7 separate regions of the Homo sapiens genome follow, and all the other regions are reported to be linked to region 4. The links are microRNA targets in miRTarBase. Many come from high-throughput screens and were not tested one by one. Region 4 holds a microRNA gene; each other region holds the end of a gene's coding sequence.
What was found. Region 4 holds the annotated microRNA hsa-miR-4768-5p (AUUCUCUCUGGAUCCCAUGGAU, at 1,914-1,935, opposite strand). A microRNA usually pairs through its seed, bases 2 to 8, with sites in the 3' UTR of a target mRNA and lowers its output. Matches are read on the target gene's strand: a 7mer-m8 pairs with bases 2 to 8, a 7mer-A1 pairs with bases 2 to 7 and ends in A, and an 8mer does both.

Region 1: the mRNA of USP32 is a reported target of hsa-miR-4768-5p. Seed matches in the 3' UTR shown: 7mer-m8 at 1,491-1,497.
Region 2: the mRNA of DR1 is a reported target of hsa-miR-4768-5p. Seed matches in the 3' UTR shown: 8mer at 2,658-2,665.
Region 3: the mRNA of PLEKHA2 is a reported target of hsa-miR-4768-5p. Seed matches in the 3' UTR shown: 7mer-m8 at 2,646-2,652 and 7mer-m8 at 1,527-1,533.
Region 5: the mRNA of LSAMP is a reported target of hsa-miR-4768-5p. Seed matches in the 3' UTR shown: 8mer at 1,658-1,665 and 8mer at 2,951-2,958.
Region 6: the mRNA of TSHZ2 is a reported target of hsa-miR-4768-5p. The part of its 3' UTR that is shown has no 7-base or 8-base seed match.
Region 7: miRTarBase lists EMCN as a target of hsa-miR-4768-5p. The part of its 3' UTR that is shown has no 7-base or 8-base seed match.

What each region holds. Positions count from the first base shown.
Region 1 is chr17:60,176,666-60,179,763 of GRCh38, reverse strand. USP32 (ubiquitin specific peptidase 32) reads left to right here. Exons shown (of 34, transcript NM_032582.4): 34 at 336-2,437. The coding sequence ends at 509. It also overlaps a transcript of CA4 not described here. Among named protein-coding and RNA genes, the nearest start is that of CA4, 28 kb to the right of the region's middle.
Region 2 is chr1:93,360,254-93,363,351 of GRCh38, forward strand. DR1 (down-regulator of transcription 1) reads left to right here. Exons shown (of 3, transcript NM_001938.3): 3 at 240-3,098. The coding sequence ends at 386. Among named protein-coding and RNA genes, the nearest start is that of DR1, 16 kb to the left of the region's middle.
Region 3 is chr8:38,969,478-38,972,477 of GRCh38, reverse strand. It overlaps PLEKHA2 (pleckstrin homology domain containing A2), which reads right to left. Exons shown (of 12, transcript NM_021623.2): 12 at 1-3,000. The coding sequence ends at 2,695. Among named protein-coding and RNA genes, the nearest start is that of HTRA4, 3.2 kb to the left of the region's middle.
Region 4 is chrX:17,424,726-17,427,823 of GRCh38, reverse strand. MIR4768 (microRNA 4768) reads right to left here and starts at 1,943; the gene lies at 1,870-1,943. The region is part of intron 1 of NHS (NHS actin remodeling regulator); the gene reads right to left.
Region 5 is chr3:115,807,743-115,810,840 of GRCh38, reverse strand. It overlaps LSAMP (limbic system associated membrane protein), which reads left to right. Exons shown (of 7, transcript NM_002338.5): 7 at 427-3,098. The coding sequence ends at 524. All of the region lies in intron 1 of LOC124906269 (a long non-coding RNA gene), which reads right to left. Among named protein-coding and RNA genes, the nearest start is that of SNORD155, 96 kb to the left of the region's middle.
Region 6 is chr20:53,256,146-53,259,243 of GRCh38, forward strand. It overlaps TSHZ2 (teashirt zinc finger homeobox 2), which reads left to right. Exons shown (of 3, transcript NM_173485.6): 2 at 1-426. The coding sequence ends at 418. Among named protein-coding and RNA genes, the nearest start is that of TSHZ2-AS1, 250 kb to the right of the region's middle.
Region 7 is chr4:100,407,849-100,410,946 of GRCh38, reverse strand. It overlaps EMCN (endomucin), which reads left to right. Exons shown (of 12, transcript NM_016242.4): 11 at 592-665. The coding sequence ends at 626. Among named protein-coding and RNA genes, the nearest start is that of SNORA101A, 14 kb to the right of the region's middle.

The sequences.
Region 1 (3,098 bases), not on the chromosome of region 4:
AGGAGGCAGAGGTTGCAGTGAGCTGAGATCGCACCAGTGCACACCAGCCTGGTGACAGAGCGAGACTCCATCTCAAAAAAATAAATAAATAGAATTTGATGAGGTTTTAGGTCATTCTTTTTTGACTTGTCTATGGTCAAAATATTTTCCCCAAAGCAAACATTGGAAATAATGGGGCTCATCTTAAAGGGGCAGGTGTGAGACAGCCAAACTAGTGAGCTTATTGGAAGCAATCAGGTTTAGTAATTACAGAGGGTTGGTCTTCCCTTTCCTGGCAAGGATTTAGAGCCATAGTAGTGATGGCTTTTTGTTAAAGGTTTTTCTTGCCCTTTCAGGAACTTCACCCGGATGAAATTGACACCGACTCTGCCTACATTCTTTTCTATGAGCAGCAGGGGATAGACTATGCACAATTTCTGCCAAAGACTGATGGCAAAAAGATGGCAGACACAAGCAGTATGGATGAAGACTTTGAGTCTGATTACAAAAAGTACTGTGTGTTACAGTAAAGCTACCACTCTGGCTGCTAGACAGCTTGGCGGTGAGGGAGATGACTCCTTGTAGCTGACATTTGGCAAAAGCGTCACTGAAAGGCAAGCTAAATGTAGTTATTTTATCCTGTGGCCCTGAAGCACAAAATAAAAATTCTAATTAAAATAGTTAACTTTAAGAGTAGTAATCATTTTATTTTGAAGTCTCATACAAGCTCTCCGATAGAGAACTTTCAGGCAGATCCCACCATTAGCCTGTAAACAAAAGGTTTGGCACCAGCCACCTGGGACCAAATAAGAATTCAATTGTGCTTGTCCAGATATGAACAAATATGTAGTGAGTATAGAGTTTACCATAATCATAACAAATATTAAAGATTTCCTTGGAGTCAGAGTAAAAAACAAACAATTATAATGTTGTCTAGGGACGACATGATATGCTACCTCCTTTTTCCTGAAGTTTTATTCCATTATATTGACAAGATGGAGAAAGCAAGATCACGAAGGTGTGCAAATGATTCTTAAGGCATGGACGAGGATTTTTCAATTTATTTTTTAAACTGTTTCCATACCCTTTCTTTGTCTTTCTTGCTTTTTGTTTTTGCCGTTGTATTTATGTTTGAGACACAACCAGTCATTGGTGGCAGGGGCATATAGTGGTCAGTCTGAAAGGGAGGCTCTCTTAAGAGCTGTGTGCCTTCCACCCAGAGCCTTGTGGGAGACCCAGTAGAAAGAAACAGCATCCTGGGAAATCCAGCTACCATGGCCCTCCCAGTGGAGGCATCTTACATTTAGGATACTTCAAGTATCCTCAGAAATGTATTCTGCACCCCCGGCCCCACCCATGCTGAGGGAAGGGGAGCAGTTGCCAATATTTGCACCATCTTCACATGCACCTGTTGCAACAAGAGCTTCTGGGAAGGTAAGTGGCATTGGAGCTAGATCACGTTTCACAATTAGTGGTTGTTCTTTTCTGTGTTTGTCTTGCACTTTAAAAAAGAGAGAACACATGCAAATGAACTTGCTTGTGTGTATTTGATGGCTCTAAGGGCTATAAATTACAAACAAAACACATCCCAGACATTAGGAGTTCATAAGTGTATTTAATGAAATTGGTGGTTTTAGGAAGTCAACTTTAGTTTTGCTTTGTTTGCATGTCCACTAATTTTTTTATTTTGATATTTGTCTTTTTTTTAAATTTTACAGTAGTCATCGAAAGTTATGTTTCTTTGCTTACTTCATTTTTTTCTCTAATCAAGACTGGAACAAAAGTATAAATATTATTTATTTCAGGTAGCATTTTTTTCGTGTAGTTTTTTAATATATACTTGAAGGAAATGTTTCACCTTATTTTTGGTCTTTGTTTATTCATTTAGACCCTGCAAGTTGATTCTCATTAATTGTCAGATTCCACTACCCTTTCTTCCTCATAGATAGTAATTACCAATGTAACTAAGTATTTGTGTTCTGATATCTGAGGCCAGTAACTATTAATATCTAGTTCTCAGAGCATTTGGAAAGGTTATCTTAAATGGCTACCTAAATTGAAATCCTTTTCAGAAAAAATATAATTGCAAGTAGGTAGGACTGGCCTAAATTGTCTAATGTAATAAAGTCAGACAAAATGCATACTTTATAGTTTCAAGATTTTCAGTATATAAAATCTGTCCATTCCCATTAAAAAGTGGAAGATTTTAAATAATTTCTTTACAGATGTTTTATTTAAGCAGGTAGCTCAATCTACTAATGTTGTTTGATCTGTGTTTGTTATACTGGTTGTAATTAATTTTTTTAATTCATGAACTAGCAGAAAATTTATTAAATTAACTATTAACTACATTCACCTTGTAAATTACTGTATAAAACTTGTTGACAATGCACTGACTTTAGAAAGATGTTAATGTACATAAATAGAGTGTAAATAAAATAGTGTTGATGTACCGAAATATGAACTGTATAAAAAGTATTGGTAATTGTATATGGGGTGTACCTGTTTATCTGTAACTAGTATACAAACAAATTAAATACTGTGGATGCCTCCATGTGCCGTTTTTCCTCATACAAGTAAACACAGAAAGACAAATTCTTCAGCCTCCCTCTCTGTGATCCTGTTTTAATTCTCCTACTTGAATAATTTCTTTCTGACTTACAGAGGGGATGCTTCATCTCTGAGGTTGGAAACTCTGTAGAGCAGGATTCCCAAACTCCTGGGCTACAGACCAGTACCATCTGTGGCCTGTTAGGAACTGGGCTGCACAGCAGGAGGTGAGCGGCAAGCTGTATTTAGAGCCGCTCCCCCTTGCTCCCATTACCACCTGAGCTCTGCCTCTGTTAGATCAGCAGCGGCATGCCATTCTCACAGGAGAACGAACCCTATTGTGAACTGTGCCTGCTAGCAATCTAGGTTGTGTGCTCCTTATGAGAATCTAATGCCTGATGATTTGAGGTGGAGCAGTTTTATCCTGAAACCACTCCCCCCATCCCCCAGTCCGTGGAAAAATTGTCTTCCACAACACCAGTCCCTGGTGCCAAAAAGGTTGGCAACCACTGATGTAGAGTGTAGAACAAGATCCCTCCAGTGACCAGGTGACTTTAAACATGGCTCAC
Region 2 (3,098 bases), not on the chromosome of region 4:
TATAAGAGATCCAAGTTTGAGAAATTTCTTAGACCTGTGTAGTTAGAAAAAAGCAATCTCTAATTATATTTACCTATAGAGTTTATGTTCTCCAGATGTGTGACAATTACATAGTACTTGGACAGTATCCAAGTATGATAATAAACTGTCTGAAATTGGCCTAATCTACATTTAACCAAAGTGTATATATTGTGGGTTTGTAAAAAATTGTTATTTTTTTTTATGTTTTGGGTGTTTAGGCTAGACAGCAACAAGCAGAATTGGCCCAACAGGAATGGCTTCAAATGCAGCAAGCTGCCCAACAAGCCCAGCTTGCTGCTGCCTCAGCCAGTGCATCTAATCAGGCGGGATCTTCTCAGGATGAAGAAGATGATGATGATATCTGAAATTCACCAGCTGAGTTTCTATTTCTTCTATAAATGTTTTTCCCTGCACAACAAAAACAGTGAAAGAAATGCTTATCTGTAATTTTGTATGCATCTTGGTGGACTTGTCATTGGTATTCTAGGGATGTCTGCTATTAAGTTTCATCTATTGTGTGCTATACATGTAAAAACTGTCTCTTTGAACTATTGAAAATTTAAGGTTCAGTATAATATCAATTTTGAATTTTTAATGGTGTTTATGAAATTTTAGATAGCAGCGAGTCCTTCGTTTGATCAATAAACAGTGTTACAGATAACTTCAAGTTTATAAAAATACAGTGAAATTTCTACAAAGCTCTAAATCTGCATTTGCATTTCCTCTGCCCTTTTAACTAAACTAAAACTTGTGAATTTTAAATTATTAAGGGGGGGGTGCTGTGTGAATCAGTAGACATTGGATTGGGTTGGTGAAAGAGTTCAGTTCTGTAGTATCTGAATTTGTCTTTTAAAATGAGTACATATATAGGCAATAAATATATATGCTCAGATCAATATACTTGTTTAGAAAAACTTCAAGACATTCAAAAACTAGGAAGGAGTATGTTTAATAGTATTTGTATAAATTTGGTGGTTATGTTTTTTTATTTTGTTTCTGTTTTGTGTAGAGGTAAAAACTATAGTTTTATTACAGCATAATTCATTTTGAGCTCCACTATGACATTTCAAAGACTGCCCAGTTTGGAAGTCTGTCATGATTTTTACTCTTTCACTCCAATTCAGTAATTGTTGATAGTATTACTTACCTAGTCCATCCATACTCATATTATTCAAATATATAGGTGGTACTTTTGAAACAATTACATTGGTTCTCTTGGTTTAACTGAGGTTTATGAATATTCAAACCTTTGCTGGGGGAAAGAAATGAAAGTTAATGAGCATGCTTGCTATGAGAGAGGGATTTTTAATTTAACTTGTAGTTATAGTTTACTTATTGTTTTTAGAATTACTTTTACATTTTCCCAACTAGATGGCCTAGAGTCCAACATTACCTTTTGAGATGACATTATTGTCTCCATAATTGAGTGATAGCTTTAAAAAAAAGATTAGTTTTGCTTAAGAAGTTATGTTACAACTGATCAGCCCTATATGAATTAACTGATCAGCCCTATATGAAACATAAGTTGTGTTATAACTTATCAGCCGTATATGGAACATAAATAGTTTCTACCTGCTTGTTAGAGAAGCTTTAATTTGGTTCTAATAAATACAGTATGGTAGTGTTTATAGGAATCCAGGATGTTGAAGAAATGGCATAATGTCTATATTTTGGAAACAGAAAGGAAAAGTCACTTAAGATAGTATTAAGTAATTAAATTCCTATGTCAGTTGCCAAATCTTTTAAACTTATGTATTCACCAAGCCCAAAAATAGATTGTGGCTCCCAGGATTCCAATTTTAATTGGAGAGCTAAGTAAGTAAAGTTTTATAACTGTTAGGTTTCTTAATGATCATATTTTGCAGTTTTAGTAAAAGGGAAATATTGTTATACATTTATTAAATATACTTCCCCCATGAAGTGAAAAGGTTAATTTTGCTGAATGTTTTAAGTTGAAGTTACTTCATGGATGTCATACCCATGAAGTGCATTTGGATGAGATAGAAGAAATTGTTTTTTAAAAAGTTTAAGTACCAAAGGTAGTCTAGTCTAGAACGATAAGTTAATACGTGTTGGCTTTTCTAATTTGTACTGTAACATCCTTATACTTTCTATTTTAAGTATATCTGTTTCTTAAGTAAACAACTTAGATATTTTCCACACCTTTTTTTTTTTTTCTGATGCAGAGTTCAGGTTAATATTTTACTGCATCTGATAATGTATTATACGTTTGAAGCCTAGTGACTTTTCATTTTGACATTCTTGTGATTTCATATGCTGTATTCTTCAAGCAATAAAATTGTGATGTGTTTTATAAATGGTTTTTATATTTAATGTTCTATAGAGAGATTTCTATTATTACCATTTTTACTATTTTCAAGAATCTTAGGCCCAAAAGACATTTTGGTCATTTGGTATGTAGTACCTGCCTTTTGTTTTTGTTTACTGTTATTTCAAAAAATGTGGTTTTACTTGTATTTTTATAATTTACAGTCCTAAGATCGAGGCATAACAAAGCTTACTTATGCAATATTTTATTTTTAGGTTTTTTCTTTTTTTTTTTTTTTTTTTTTTTTTTTTAGCATTTAAGAGTCACTATTATGTTTTGCCAGTTAAAATTTTTTAAATCTTTTGAAGAGAGAAACAAAATCTTCAGCGTTCTTGAGAAATAAAATTATTGTTCAGTAAGTATTTTTCCATCCCCTTGAATATATGTTATATATTCTTTTTCGGCAGATTATCAGATTAGTAAGTGTTTAAAAGGCATCAGTTTTTAAAACTGCATATACCACACACACACAAAACAGTACACAAATAAAGGTTTTCACAAATTAAACAAACTCACATACTAGTCTTCAGATCAAAACACAGAGCATTATGTGTACCCCAGAAGCCCTCCTCTTTCCCCATCTTAACACTGTCTTCTTTCTTGCTGAAAGTTACTATCCTGACTTCTAAAATCATAGATTAGTTTTGCCTGTTTTTTATTTTATGTAAATGTAATCATACATAATACACTTTTTTTCATTCATCATTTTTGTGAATATTTTAGTTTCTTGTTGCCACTGTAACAAACT
Region 3 (3,000 bases), not on the chromosome of region 4:
TGCAGTGGCTCACACCTGTAATCCCAACACTTTAGGAGGCCAAGGCAGGAGGATCACTTGGGCCAGGAGTTTGAGAGAGCCTGGGCAACATAGCCAGGCTCTGTAGATAAAAAAAAATTAAAAATTAGCCAGGCGTGGTAGCACAACCCTGTAGTCCTAGCTACTTGGGAAGCTAACATGGGAGGATTGCTTAAGCCCAGAGATTCAAAGTTATGATGAACTATGATCACACCACTGCACTCTAGCCTGGGTAAGAGAGTGAGACCCTGTCTTTTAAAAATTAAAAAAAAAAAATTAAAAACAAGCAATGCTCTAATGTGGAATTCCCAAGTGTTTGCCAATTGACAAGAAGATTTCCATTTGACAGTCTTAGTGTCCTCGTTTCCCTTTATCAGGATAATACCATATGGATTCTATGTATGTTTAATTTGTCACATTCTCAAAAGAGATCTTGCTGAATAAGAAACAAATCAGCTTATTATAATGGCCAATTAATTTAGCAATAGTAACCTATCAGATAATTTTTTTTTTGAGATGGAGTCTTGCTCTGTCGCCCAGGCTGGAGTGCAGTGGCGCGATCTTGGCTCACTGCAAGCTCCGCCTCCCAGGTTCACACCATTCTCCTGCCGCAGCCTCCCAAGTAGCTGGGACTACAGGCGCCTGCCACTGCGCCCGGCTAATTTTTTTTTCGTATTTTTAGTAGAGACGGGGTTTCACCGCGGTCTCGATCTCCTGACCTCGTGATCCGCTCGCCTCGGCCTCCCAAAGTGCTGGGATTACAGGCGTGAGCCACCTTGCCGGCCTTATCAGATAATTTATTTAAAAGAAAAGAGAGAGAGAGAGATAAATGGGTAGATTTTCACAATGTATACACCAAAAGAGGACATCTTTTCCGTGAGTCAGGGAATATTTAAAGAGATATCAAAAGTCCCTATTTTCATGAGTTCCACATCACATATTTTGTGCTTTCTTTGAATAGCCAAAAAATTTTCTTGGGGAAAATACGAGAGTAAAACCAGAGCTAAGGAGCTATAAGAATTTGGAATGGCTTCTTGAAATCATGCCGCTCCAAGTATGTCATAACCTCGATCACTCAAAAATACATAACTCCCAAACCAAGAATTTCTGAGGGCAAAAGCACACCAGCGTGTATAGGAAAGGCAGGGGAAGGGATGGAAGGGAGAGAAAGAGGGAACAATGTAGATTTCCTGTTTTATACCAGGAAAACTAGGCCAAACTCAATTTAAATGAATAGCTCCAAAGCAGTGCAGTCAGAAAAAGTTCTCAGTGTGACATAGACTTCAGGGAAACAACACGTCCTGAAAGAAACATGATTCCCCTCAAGCCACAAAGGATTTTCTCATCAAGTGTTTTCACCTCTGCATTAGATTTGGACACAAGAAGAGGAGAGCATTTACTCAGGTAAAAATAGTTCTCTTAGTCTCTTCCTCTAGTTACTAATTTTTAATTTAAAAATACAATTAACTGATCTAGCTGATAAAAGTCACAGACAGAAATAAGCTAAGTTCTCTCTTCCTTTAGGGAACGCTGGTGGCAATTCACCATATAAACTGGATGGAAGAATTCTCCCAGGGACACTGGAAATAGCATCTTCTTATCAAATGGAAGGAGGTACGCCCTAAAATTTGGGTGGGACACTCAATTTTCTTTTATATTTTGAGACGGAGTTTCACTCTTGTTGCCCTGACTGGAGTGCAATGGCGCGATCTTGGCTCACTGCAACCTCCACCTCCTGGGTTCAAGTGAATCTCCTGCCTCAGCCTCTGAGTAGCTGGGATTACAGGCCTGCACCACCACGCCCGGCTAATTTTGCATATTTTTTAGTAGAGGCGGGGTTTCACCATGTTGGCCAGGCTGATCTCGAACTCCTGACCTCAGGTGATCCACCCGCCTCAGCCTCCCAAACTACTGGCATTACAGGCGTGAGCCACCATGCCCGCTCAAAACTCAATTTTCTAGGCTCTTTTATCTGAGGAATCTCTGGCCAGCAACTCATAACATCTAAATCAATGTTTCTATGCCAAGCTTCTATTTCATTAAAAATATATATCTCTCTCTAGATTCTTTTTGTATCTCTTCATGTTAAGTGCATGGAAATTCATCCTATTACAGGGTCTGATCATGCAAGCACACAAGGCTTCATTCAAAGGGCAACAGCAAGAAGAAAGAGAAAGCAAGTTTGCAAGGGTACAAAACACATAGCGCTTAAAATTAGACTAATGCTGGCCCATTCCAAAAGAGCTGCGAGGCACCTGGACTGAAAACAAAATGAAAAAACTAAAACAAGGACAAGGAAATAAAACTTGGTCATTGGTGAAACTGGACTTCCAGCCCCCTCTGGAGAGGAGCTGCTAAAACAATCCCTCTCCAGGAAGACCTCAGAATAGTTAGAATAGAATAGGTAGCTTCCTCTCCACTGAGTATGCCTACAGTTCTAACCTAGTGACTTCCCCAAATTAAATACACTGCGTTGATATTACACACACACACACACACACACACACACACACACACAGCCCAGCTGGATGGGCCCCTCCCTCCCAAAGAGCATCCACAGGAATATGAGTGACATAAAGGCCTCTGACTACCCTCCAACAAGGTAGAGAAACTGAGTCACAGCCTCCTTCTCTCAAGTCCTCCCTCCCTCCCTCCCTCCCATGGCACTGTGCTCCATCACACATCAGAGGTCCGTATGTTTTCATCATCAAGGTTGAACATAAACGGCTTCTCCTTGGGGTGCTGGGGCTCCGATCTGTGCCTTATCCGGGAGCTGGGCAGCACCCCAGGAGCGCTGCCCTCCCCAGGACGAGGCGTGAACAAGGAGTCCTCTGAAGTGTCTCCAGGTGGAAGCAGCTTCTCCCCAGCCTGGGGGACAGGTGTCCAGGGCTGCCAGGAGGAGGCCACAGAGGGGGCTTTGCAGAGGGCTTTCTTTTCCTCCAAAGGTGGCCGCCCCCTGCACAGGATAGAGTTGGGCCCACT
Region 4 (3,098 bases):
AAATACACAAGGGGTGCTTGATTTTTTAAAAAATATATTCTTAGGAAGTATTCCAACAAGAAAAGATGGTAGACCTCCAATGTGGGTCACAGCTGGCAGTCTGACCCCAAGAAGTTTGAACCCAGCCTCTATTATCTGTGCAAGACAGAACTGTACTTCTGCTTTGGAGTTAATCCCAGAAGAATTTATTTCTTTTCCAGCCCTTCACATAGCTTGTGCTTTATGGTGGCAGACTCAATGGACCAAACCTTCAGCTGTGGGAATCATGGCTTCAGCCATTGAACACACACAGCCCAGTCAGCTGGCAGAGTGGACAATAAACCTACAAACACTCAGCAAGTCACTCAGGTTCTTGATTCAAGAGTAAATGGCTTCATAAACACAATCATAACAACAGCGGCATGAGTTGGTGCATGTCAATGTGTACATTTCGGTAGAGAGGGCCCAGAGACACGTATTTTGGCAGATGCTAGGTCTTGGCAAGACTGTAAGCAAAATCACAAAGCAGCCCAAGTCTGTGGTCAGTCCCAACTTCCTATCAGTACACCTTTTCCATCCAGGCACCCCATAAAGGTGGATTTGGTCTCTTCCACATTCCATTAAGTGTAGCCTCAATTCCCAACAAAAACCCACACCACACCTCTTTTAAGGAATTTTATAGGAAAACTTTACCTAAACATGTATCCCCAAATCCTCTGAACTAGCAAAATCCTATTCAGGTTTATCTCCATGTCAGAGAGATGGGAAATATATCAAGTTCTGTCAGCAGGTCAGCCAGGCCGAGCATGCCAAGTGATCTGGGGTTATAGACAGCAGATTAATCTCAAAGCTGGAACTTCTTTAAGACCAGGAAGTAGCCCCTTTTCTGATTAAAAGACAAGTCAATAATTCTGGGTCCTTGGTCCACCACTGTGATATGTCCCTTGCAAAACAGGCACTCTCAGGCAGTCTTCCCTGCAGAGCAACCATGATGGATACTGACTACTGACTTGAAAGTGCTTTGACACCCCCAGATGGAAGGAACTAATCAATTATGCTTCTCACTTAGAGGCACCCTGCTCATTCATGCTGAAGATAGAAGTCCAGATAAAAGTAGAATTACTGGGAGTCCAAGATCCAGAAAGAAAATGAGAGAGCTCAGCTGGTCACTGTGAATGATGTGCATGTGCCCCAAGCCTTTGAAACACATGACATTTTCCAGCAGCCAAGCACTCATCAAATTGCAGAATGTCGAAGCTACAAGGAAACTTAGCAATTATTTAATGATCTAAATTACTTTTATTATAGTGAAGAGGAAGCTGAGGCCTAGAGAGGTAAAATAACCTGTCATATAGCTGAGCAGCGAAAGGAACAGACTCATTACCCTAGTGATCTCCTGTCACACAACCCATCTCATGAAGCTCTCTCTCAGGTCGAGTTTAATAGATGAGAGAACAAGGGGTAGTCTGCCTATGCAAAGCAGGTACACACAATGAGATCAGAGCAAAGGGGATTTCCTCCCCTGAAGCTAAACAGCCCCCATAAGTGATGTTACGTGTTAGGATAATTTCCTTGGTGTGCTGGAAGATGTTTCACAAGCATGGGTGGTGGGGACCCTTATTTGCCATATTTGCCAATTTCTATAGTGTAAATACTCTCATCATGGCAGATTTCAAGCTACCAACTTGATGCCACTGAACAGCAGTTGGGGAGAGATATGTGCAATCAGCTCTTGTGAGCTGATAGAAGCTGGATCCTCCACACCACTGGAATTTCTGAGAAGTCTACATCACGGGTTTAGGAATGAAATAACTTTCTGGCCCACAAGAATAAAACACCCAGGTTTATGAGGAAAATCCTAGCAGCACACACTCTAGGTTTCACTCACTGAAACTCTGATTCTCTCTGGATCTCCTGGACATCACAGTTCCCATATCCATGGGATCCAGAGAGAATCAAAGTTTGGAGAAGTTACTTGGTCCATCATGTCTGTATCTCTGGGTAGTATCCTACCTAATTGATCCAAGGCAGGAGCACTGAGAGGTGGAATCCACATTCCCTATCTTAATGCTTTTGGCAACCAAGCATTCCTTTCCCAGCAGTAACAGGATCCAGTTTCCAAGGTGATATGTGAGCTCAGAGCCCCATCTTTACCAACGTCAAAGGCAGTGCTTGGATTCAGCTTCAGGTAGGCCTCCTCTGTTCATGTAAGCAGGAAGGAAAACATGTAAAACTGAATTCCTCCTCAATTTCTTTCTTTCTTTCTTTCTTTCTTTTTTTTTTTTTTTTTTTTTTTTTTTTTTTTTTTTTTTTTTTTTTTTTGGCTGAGAAGAGTTCCAAGGCTGGGGCAGCAACTCATCAGGAAAAGTTCTTAGCCTGTGCTTTCTTTTTGCCAAACATTGATTTGCTAATAGAGAAAATAACTGGTGTATAAACAAAAGTGGTTGATGACATCCAAGGGTCTGGAGCAATTCCTCCACATCGTTCTGACAGCTAACAAATGGAACTAGCTCTTAGGGAGCATGTTTAAGGAACAGCTGGAATATGTAACGGACATTTTTCTGTGAATTTGACAGGTCAAGCTCCATCACGGTTGAGCTACGCTCACCGGACGTGGATCAGAATGAACTCTGCCATTCCTCAGAAGGTTGCCAAGAGGGCTTTGAAGAGAAGGGAATCCAAGGAACTCAGTTTCAGACATGGAGAAGAATAAAGACCAGACAAATCATGAGCAAACCTGATTTAAAGAGAAAGATCTATAAATACCAGTTGCTCAGCTTTCTCCCTGGTTTCCTGACCCTATGATGAGCTCCACCAAAATTAAGTAAGTATAGCCCTTTCCAGAGGGTCACTTGGAGGGAAGATCCTGCCATATGTCGCCTATTGGTCTTTAGCCTCACCACCACCCCAACATCTGATAAAGTCAACAGACGTGAGTTCCTAAAGGATACAGAATATACAAGATACTTTCCCTTATACAAGGATTCACTCTAAGCATCGTTAAAATGGCAAACTCACCTGGGACCCCTAAGATAACCTGATTTACCAAAATCTGGTTTATCCTTAGCATATGAGGAGCACATCCATTCTCTAAAGCAAGGAGATTTTCAAGATCAATG
Region 5 (3,098 bases), not on the chromosome of region 4:
GCCATGATGAATTGGCCAGAAGACCCATGTCTGACTGCTGGAGGACCCTCACCAATGCTTGGAACCTTAACGAGTGCTGGCCCCAGAGAGTTACTTCGGGCAGGGCCAACAGGAGGAGGCTGGGTGAACAGGAGCCTGCTGTACCATCAGACACATTAGTGATAGCCAGTTTAAGGACTTACCCGGCAAAAGCATTTTGTATTTAGAAGTGTTTCAGCCAATGATGCCCCTTAGGATACTTGTAGCCCAAGGAGGAGAAGGATTTAGAAAAGTTTTGAGCGCTTCTTGGGCTGCACATAAGTGCAGTAACTTTGAGATGCTAGTACCTGGCCAGGTCTTACCTCTGATACCATCAGCAGTCAGCTATAACATACAGTGGGCCCATGTAACTCATTCTCTTTTTCTCTCTCCTCTTTTGCTCTGCAGGACCTGGGTCGGTGAGAGGAATAAATGGATCCATCAGTCTGGCCGTACCACTGTGGCTGCTGGCAGCATCTCTGCTCTGCCTTCTCAGCAAATGTTAATAGAATAAAAATTTAAAAATAATTTAAAAAACACACAAAAATGCGTCACACAGAATACAGAGAGAGAGAGACAGAGAGAGAGAGAGAGAGAGAGATGGGGGAGACCGTTTATTTCACAACTTTGTGTGTTTATACATGAAGGGGGAAATAAGAAAGTGAAGAAGAAAATACAACATTTAAAACAATTTTACAGTCCATCATTAAAAATTTATGTATCATTCAGGATGGAGAAGGTTCTACTGGGATATGTTTATATCTACTAAGCAAATGTATGCTGTGTAAAGACTACACCACACTAAGGACATCTGGATGCTGTAAAAATAAGAGAAGAACCAGATGGATATTAAGCCCCCCAACACACACTTTATCCTTCCTTCCTTCATCTTTTTTCATCTGTGGGGAAGAAAATAAGGTCTTGCCTTTGGTGTTTATATTTCCATAACCTTTTAATTCTATTTTTCATTTGAGCTGACTTGTAGCCACTTCAGACTATCAATGGAATCTTATGTTGAGCCTTTCTCTGGCTTTCCTTCCTCCACTATCTCTCCAACTTTAGAGATCATCCCCTCTCCCTCCAGTGCGTTCTATCTCCCCCACACCCACCCTAGATACTCCCTTTTCACCCACCTTTCCTCCCTCACCTCTCCTCACCTCCACCCCCTCCCCAGAGCACTAGTCATGCCGCAAATGCTAGGAAGTGCCATTTTCATTTTCTCCACTGTGCGTGTGTGCTCAAGTCTTTCGCTCTCACGTGGGTGTACATGTGTGTGAGCGTGTGTGTGTCTCTCTCTAAAGCATGCCAAGGGAATGGTCCATGTGTACATAGACTCATTGTGCTGTAGATACTGTCCTGCATTGTAATTGTGAGATGCGGCTGTAACAAGTTGCTGGGGGAGATGGCGGGGAAAGAGGCAAGGAGCAGAGTCCTCCCTACATCCATGGCTGTCACATGGCATCAGTGTGTATTCAAACCAAGCTATGCTCCTTCCAAGGGCAGGACCCCATATTCCTCCTAGTCCCATCATCAGAACCGAGTGGGGAGTCACTCAGAATATCACTGTAAATGAAAGTGCCTACTATCGATGGGGTAAGCAAACAGCATAAGGAATTATGACGTGGACGAGGTGACCTAGGAGAGAAAATTTCAGATTTTACTCTCATTTCATGAGTCTGAGGGATTCTTATATTTCCTGGCATTTAACAGGGTAGGCCCTGCTCCACTGTGAAAATGAGCAGCATGTGTTGAGTAAATCCCCAGAAACAGGAAGGTCTCCAAGTGTCAACTCCCAGTGAAAGAATGATGAACCACTTGGAGATCCTAAGCAGCCCTGTTTTACCTCCTCCCTAATCTTAAATAACATTTGTCCCATGAATTCCCCTGAGCAGAGATTGTTTCCTATTTCAGATAAAATACAGTGAAAGTGAGCAAGGCAGAAAAAGTCAACAGATGCCCAGGCTCCTACTGTATTCTGGAGATACTGTCAGAGCTCTAATACAGAGCACTGGCCATAATGAAAAGCAGTTCACTCCTTGTGCTCCTCTGCAGATGTTTTTCCCAGTGTTCTAGGTTAATGTTTTATTTGGTTGCCTGCATAATCCCTGTTCTGTTTCACTGATGGTGTTTGCAGCACCACTGTTCATGGTGGTCCACTGTTATCCTATGCCAGGGTGCTAAGAATTGCATGATATTCATCTTCCCTGCTCTATTTAAATTTACATCTATAAGAGTCATCTTGACATTAACACTGAAATGTGATCTAGGTCCTTAACCAAAATTGCTGGGCAACTTGTAATAAATTTAGACAGAAATTTTATGAGTACCACAAAGCTTGGTGTTACCACATCACCAGAAGGATTTCTTAGGAAATGTCTTGCCGAGAGAGCTGGCTCTCTGCATATAGATGTCTTTGTCAGAAAACCAACCCTTGCTCTCACTTACACAGTAGTAAGCACTGAAAGTGGTTCAGTTCATGAGAGGACAGAGAATTATTTTGAGATTATATTTGAATGTAATCTTGCAGAGCCAAATATGGTATGTCATTAAGTTGGAACCTTGTAAATAGCTGTTCCATGTTATAAAATGAGAAACTTTGTAACTGGAAAAAAAGAAAGGAAAGAAGGAAGGAAGGAAGGAAGGAAGGCAGGGAGGGGGGGACGGGGAAGGGGGGGAGGGAGGGAGGGAGGGAGGGAGGGAGGGAGGGAGGGAGGAAGGAAGGAAGGAAGGAAGGAAGGAGAAAGGAAAGGAAGGCAGGAGGGAGAAAGATCTAAGTAGCATTGTTAATTTCTTCAATTTCTTCTAAGGGATTTTATTGTTTGTTTTAGAAGCTTATCACAGCCTTCTTTCATGATTTTGCAGTTTAGACTTGATACAAGGAAAAATTCAGCTTGGGGATGGTTAAGAGTGTTTATAGCAGATTCTGACATAGGAGAGAAAACAAATTCTCATCCAAGAAGGTAGCTAGTAAAATATAGGGAAGGTGAGCCATATTCCTATGCAGCATCAATTTATTGACAATCAGGTATTTCTCTTAACAGTTTGGTCTTCTTAGTTCAAGAATAAAGGGTATCATCTTT
Region 6 (3,098 bases), not on the chromosome of region 4:
CAGTCACTGGCTGGCCAACGTCAAGTACCAGCTTAGGAAAACGGGCGGGACAAAATTTCTGAAAAACATGGACAAAGGCCACCCCATCTTTTATTGCAGTGACTGTGCCTCCCAGTTCAGAACCCCTTCTACCTACATCAGTCACTTAGAATCTCACCTGGGTTTCCAAATGAAGGACATGACCCGCTTGTCAGTGGACCAGCAAAGCAAGGTGGAGCAAGAGATCTCCCGGGTATCGTCGGCTCAGAGGTCTCCAGAAACAATAGCTGCCGAAGAGGACACAGACTCTAAATTCAAGTGTAAGTTGTGCTGTCGGACATTTGTGAGCAAACATGCGGTAAAACTCCACCTAAGCAAAACGCACAGCAAGTCACCCGAACACCATTCACAGTTTGTAACAGACGTGGATGAAGAATAGCTCTGCAGGTATGGGTTTGCTCTGAGGCATTGCGATTAGCCTGGTGAGGAGCTTTCTTACAGGGAGATGGGTCTGCTTAGAGGCAGCTAGCATCTCCCAATGCCAAGCAGGATAGTAGCTTGCTGGAGTAGGATTTATTTTAATGAAAGACCAGAACATGAAAACTAAGTCCTAATCATTCTCTTAAGTCCTCTAGTTTAGAGCTGGGAACTAGAATAAAACGGGTTTAGAGAGATAAAGTTCACAGATTACTACTGCTTTTTTTAGGCCTTCATCATCCATAATCCTGAATTACCCAAGGCAAGCTCCAGTGTCCAGCCAAGGCTATCTTTCATTTTAATTATTAGATACTAACTTCTGTCACCATTCCATTTCACCACCCCACCTTTCCATAGCAATGCCAATGACTTATAAAGTGACAAAAAGTTGAGCAATGGAAGAAAGATTGGAGAGTGCTAGAAGTAGTTACTATATAGAGATTCCTTAATCAGCTCATGAATAGCTTAAAGTTGTCTTTATGATTGTTACTTGTAATGAATGCTTTTTTGCAGCTTACTTTTAGTAATTGCCACCTTCCACCTCTTCCCTTTGGTTATTTTCTACATTAAGTGTCCTATGAATGAGCATGTGCCCTTAACAGGTTGGTAGAAAAATATTCTTCTTTGCAGAACATTGAGATGAAAAGAAGCTTATTTTCTTCTTTCATCTTTTGGTTTTCTTGTGGATAGACCAGTATTAGAGCCCACCTTTAACAAAGATAGAGGCAATGTGTGCCCTTGAGGTTTCATTTCACATAAAGAAACAAATGGCTTTCTGTACACTTATGTTAATGTGCATGGAGTCCCATAGCTTGAAGATAATGTGCATCATGTGTCATAGAAGTTCCATGCCTTATATAGTCAACCATGCCCAGACCATTTGTGTCATTTTTAGGAAACAGGGCAGAGACCAAGGTCAAATGCTTTGGCAGATTAGTTTCACCAGCCATTTTCAAATGTTGAGGATAAGCAAGGCTGGGTCTTAACCAATCTCTTTCATTTGCCCATTTGTGTTTTCTCTACTTCTTTTTCTCTCCCTTCCAGCATGATGCCCGCATACACTAAGGGCCCTCCTATGTGTTCAGGTGGTCCTCCACCTTCGGCCATTCCCCAAGATGGGAACCCAACCTGAACTAAACCTTCTGTGCTGACCAATCCAGTTGACGTCATGTTAAGTTACGGATTTGCTCCTAGTTAATTAGCTCTTAATTCACGATCGAATATGAAAAACTAATAACATATAATCGCTCACCACACCCTATTGTCAGAGCATTGGTTTACAAATAGAAGACTTTCAGAACAAGCTAGAAAGGTAGGACACTAGGAGAGTTCCAGGTAGAGAGCGGTATTTACATGGCATGGCTTTGGGCTTGCCTCACATCAGACAGAGGGGTTTACTGGGTGTGAAGATGGCCAAGATGAAATAAAAAGTTAAAATATCTGACCTGGGACTTTCCCCTGAGTGAGGCGATCTACGCTTCTGATGGAGAGGAGTCCTCCTATAACTCTAATTGCTATCTAGACCCAAATGAAGACTATCTTTTTGGTTTGCATGTTTTTATCATGATGATTGAATGTGTTATTGGCAGATTCTTCTCATTCTTTCCAAGCATGATTTGTTCAGCTCACGGAATTGAAAGAAAAGCCAAAATGCATCCATTGAATTCACACCTGAGCTTGGGGTTCAACAGCGTCCTATTTATTTGCTGCATAACATTTTAAATCTTAAATAACTTGCCATTATGTTTTCCTGGTTCTTAAAAAAAAAGAGGGGGGGCATACAGAGAATACTTAGAGAGAAGAAAGATATTTCAAATCCAATAGTGGTGGGTTGAAACCATGGTGAAGAGGACAAATAGGTAATATTTATTTGTACTATAACAAAGACCACTTTTCCACCTGTTAGGTTTGTAATCTTTTTTAGAAAATTAATATAATTGCCAAAACACTCTGATATGTAGATAGGGAGAGGTAAGGAAAAGAAAGCTTGATCCATCGTCAGTCAGAATCTGGAGTGTATGATACCTGTTCTAGGGATTCAAAGGTGAACCAATAATTTGGAAAAACATATACAAAAGGTACTTCCAAATCCATTAAATACATAGATAAGATAGCCATTTTGGCACTTCTCTGCATTTGTACAGGATGAGTATATCTAATTTGGACCTCGAAAGCACCGTATTGGTGTTTTCATTATACAAAACCAAAGCTCCATCCTTACAAGCACCATTAGGCTGTGGTTCTGAGAGGATTGCAGAAAAACAGGTTTGAGTGTTTGGGACTCACTCAAAGCCATGGGCGTGTATGTATGTTTTGTAAACAGAAAAGATGGTGCAGGTACTGGCTGTGTTTGTGTTCATCGTAAAAATACTCCTATCTGCCTGAATGTTTCCCCCATCTGTACAAAGGTCGATTCTTGGTGCTTTGGTCACCTTAGAAAAAAATGCCTCCACCCCCGGGGTCCTCTTTTAGAACAATATTTATGCAATACCTTGCCCATTGCTTAGAATGATGCATGTAAGGTTTCTAAATGGTCATGAAATGACATCACTGTTGTCTGGAACTCTAATCTTAGTTGTAATGCATAGTAGCACAAATTGTGCAAAGTGACATGATATTTTAGAAAGTATGATCAAGATTTC
Region 7 (3,098 bases), not on the chromosome of region 4:
ATGTGAAAAATACTTGGGGCCTCTCAGCTTGCCACCATCCTAGGTTAATATTTCTCTGTATATTGGATGGTGGAATAGCACTGGGATTTTGAGTAATGGCACCTGCGCTGCTCTGTATATCACCCAAGTGTTCATATTGGCCTATAAATTCATTTTCACAAAACCCTCACTGAATTATTTAAACAGAAGGACCCTAGAATGTCTTCCTGATAAAATGGCACTTTAAACACATGACATGGGCTTGCTTAGGCACAGCCAGCTCATGTAACAAGCAAAAATCAATACTTATTCCCCAGGGTTTCTCTAATGTTATCATCTCCCAACTCACATCCCCGCCCCCACTGCCCCCTGACCTATCCCACCCAGGACTTCATATTGCTACTTTAAAGTGAAAACAGATGATGTCTGGGAAAAGTTCATATATTTTGGTGACTAATTTCTAGACAATACCAAGAGGCAAATGGTGGCTTTAATGACATTCTTGCAGGAAAGTTGAACTTTCCTTGAAAAATAGAAAAAAGCTAGGAAACTTTATTTTCATCCTTACTCAGTCTCTGAGCTTACAGATCAAAACATATCTTCTGTTCTCAGGTGAGCACTCTGCACAAGGAAAAACCAAGAACTGACAGCTTGAGGAATTCTCTCCACACCTAGGCAATAATTACGTAAGTTTCCCAATTTCATTCACGGAGACAATCATTAATATCTGTTTTGTTAGCCTGGTGCAGCTTAGATTGTTTTTAAAGAATTTCAAAAGCTGGAAAGCTAATGGTTTGTGTCAATGCAATGATCATTGTCTATTTGTCTAAAAACAAACTCTAACAAAAATTGCCAAAAAATGAATGACCTGGTGGTTGTAGACGATTTGTCCAATTCTCTTGCCTGTCTAAGGAATGACACAATTTGCTCTTTCTGCCTGTTGTTAATGTTTCCTTGTAAATTCAGTCTGCCTACCTAGGTCAGTAAGCACACACTAACTGTGGCACTTAGACAGGCTTCTGTTGCTGACAAAGACTGGCAGAATCCAAGTGACGGTGCTTGCAAATTTGCAGTTTATTGCAAGAAAATGATAAAATATAGAAACTGCATTAAAGTAAAGATGTGTATCACAGCCGTAGGCTGGCTCAGGGAAATGGGTTCAGAGAAGCTAGTTGAAGGGTCTAATTGCCCTCTCTCTATAAGGACCATACCAGAATATGGTCCTTATATTTTTCTCTCTGGGTCCAGAAACCATGGATGTGTGGAAAAAAACACCTCAAACAAGATGATCTAAAATTCAGTTTCAGCCAGGTTTCCTTTTACTCAGCTGGTCATGTAGACATAGTCTTGCTGTGTAACCAGCCAAGCAACAGAGCCCTCCAGGTATCTTGACAAAACCAGATACAAATGATCAATCTTACTACAATAATTGTGAATCAATAAAAAATGGAAATTTCTCAAAAGTATGTTCCATGTCATGACCAGGAGTAAGCTCAAGGCAGGTACGTTTCTTATTTTAGTAAACAGCTCAGGCCAACGTTAAACCTGCTTTGGAATTAAGTCTCCCAGTTGGTATGGGATTGACTTTTACTTTCCTAGAACTAAGTAAGGAAATGCTCTTCTGACTTTAATTTAATTGTTACAAGAAGTATTGATTAAGTGCTGTCACTTAGTTTTTGAGGTTTTATAAAACTTGCAGAAGAATCTACCTTTCGGCAACTAACAATAAAAAATAAAATAAAATAAAATAAATACGTGTCCAGAATTGGCCTGACCACAATGATAGTCACTCTAGGTAAAGTGTCCACGATGAGAAATATTGTTATTCATGGCCTATGTCTAATCCCTAATTAACTAACACTGTTCTGTTACAGACACTCAGAAATTTCTTGTAGAATAAATGGTACCTGCTGTGCTTGTCTGACCAGTAGCAGAAGACAGAGACAGAGGAGTGCCATCCAAACATATGTGTCAGTATCAGAATTTTATCCCTCTCTAGCCAGTAATTAGGGATGGATTAGGAATCTTGGAATTTGTGCACCTCCAGCATGCTGCAGTGCCCTATGGAAAAGAGGCAAGACTGCCTTCCCCTGCCCTCCTGCTCTTCACCAGTCATGAGCCCCTAGCTTGGGCCTGCAATGCAACCACCTTTCCCCAGCTGATTATTCTAATTGGCAGTGGCTCTGAGTGGCATGCCAAGGTCCCTGCCCCTGCTGCCACCAAGCTGGGGAGAGAGAAAAAATCCTAAGCTTGTCTCAGGCCTGCAGTGCACAGTCTGGGAGTGCTAAGCTGAGATCTATGACCAGCACTTGAGTGGGAGAGGATCACACACTCTCAGAGCACTGAGGGGAAGCATGGCTACAAATGTGAGGAAACACAGAGGGGCTGCATGGCTGGGTAAGAGCCTATCTACCAGTCATTATGTTTAAGCACTATCTATTAAATTGCAAACCAAACTTCAACACCAAAAATACTTTGGTAATATACTCCTCTGTAAAACCAAGGACAAGAACTCAACTGCAAATAAAGACCCTGCACAAAGCCTCAGCCCTCTGAACACATACAGAAATGAAACCGACTGACTATACTCAAATTACACTGCAATTAAAGAAACATCAGTCCACATAGGTGAGAAAGAACCAGCTCAAGAACTCCTGAAACTCTAAAAGCCAGATTGCCTCCTTACCTCCAAATGACTGAACTAGCTGCTCTGCAGTGATTCTTAACCAGAATAAAATGGATGAAATTACAGAAATAGAATTCAGAATCTGGATGGCAATGAAGATCACTGAAAATCAGAAGATTGAAACCCATTCCGAGGAATCTGAGGAATTCAACAAAACCATACAAGGAATGAAATATGAAATAGCCATTTTAAGAAAGAACAAAACTGATCTGACAGAGCTGAAAAACTCACCACAAGAATTTCATAACACATTGGAAGTATTAACAGCAGAGTAGACCAAGTCAAGTAAAGAATCTCAGAACTCAAAGACTAGTTCTTCACATTAACAGTCAGATAAAAATAAAGAAAATAGAATTTTCAAAAATGAACAAATCTCCAAGAAACATGAGATTATGTAAAAAGACAAAACTTATGACCCATTGGCATCCCTGAA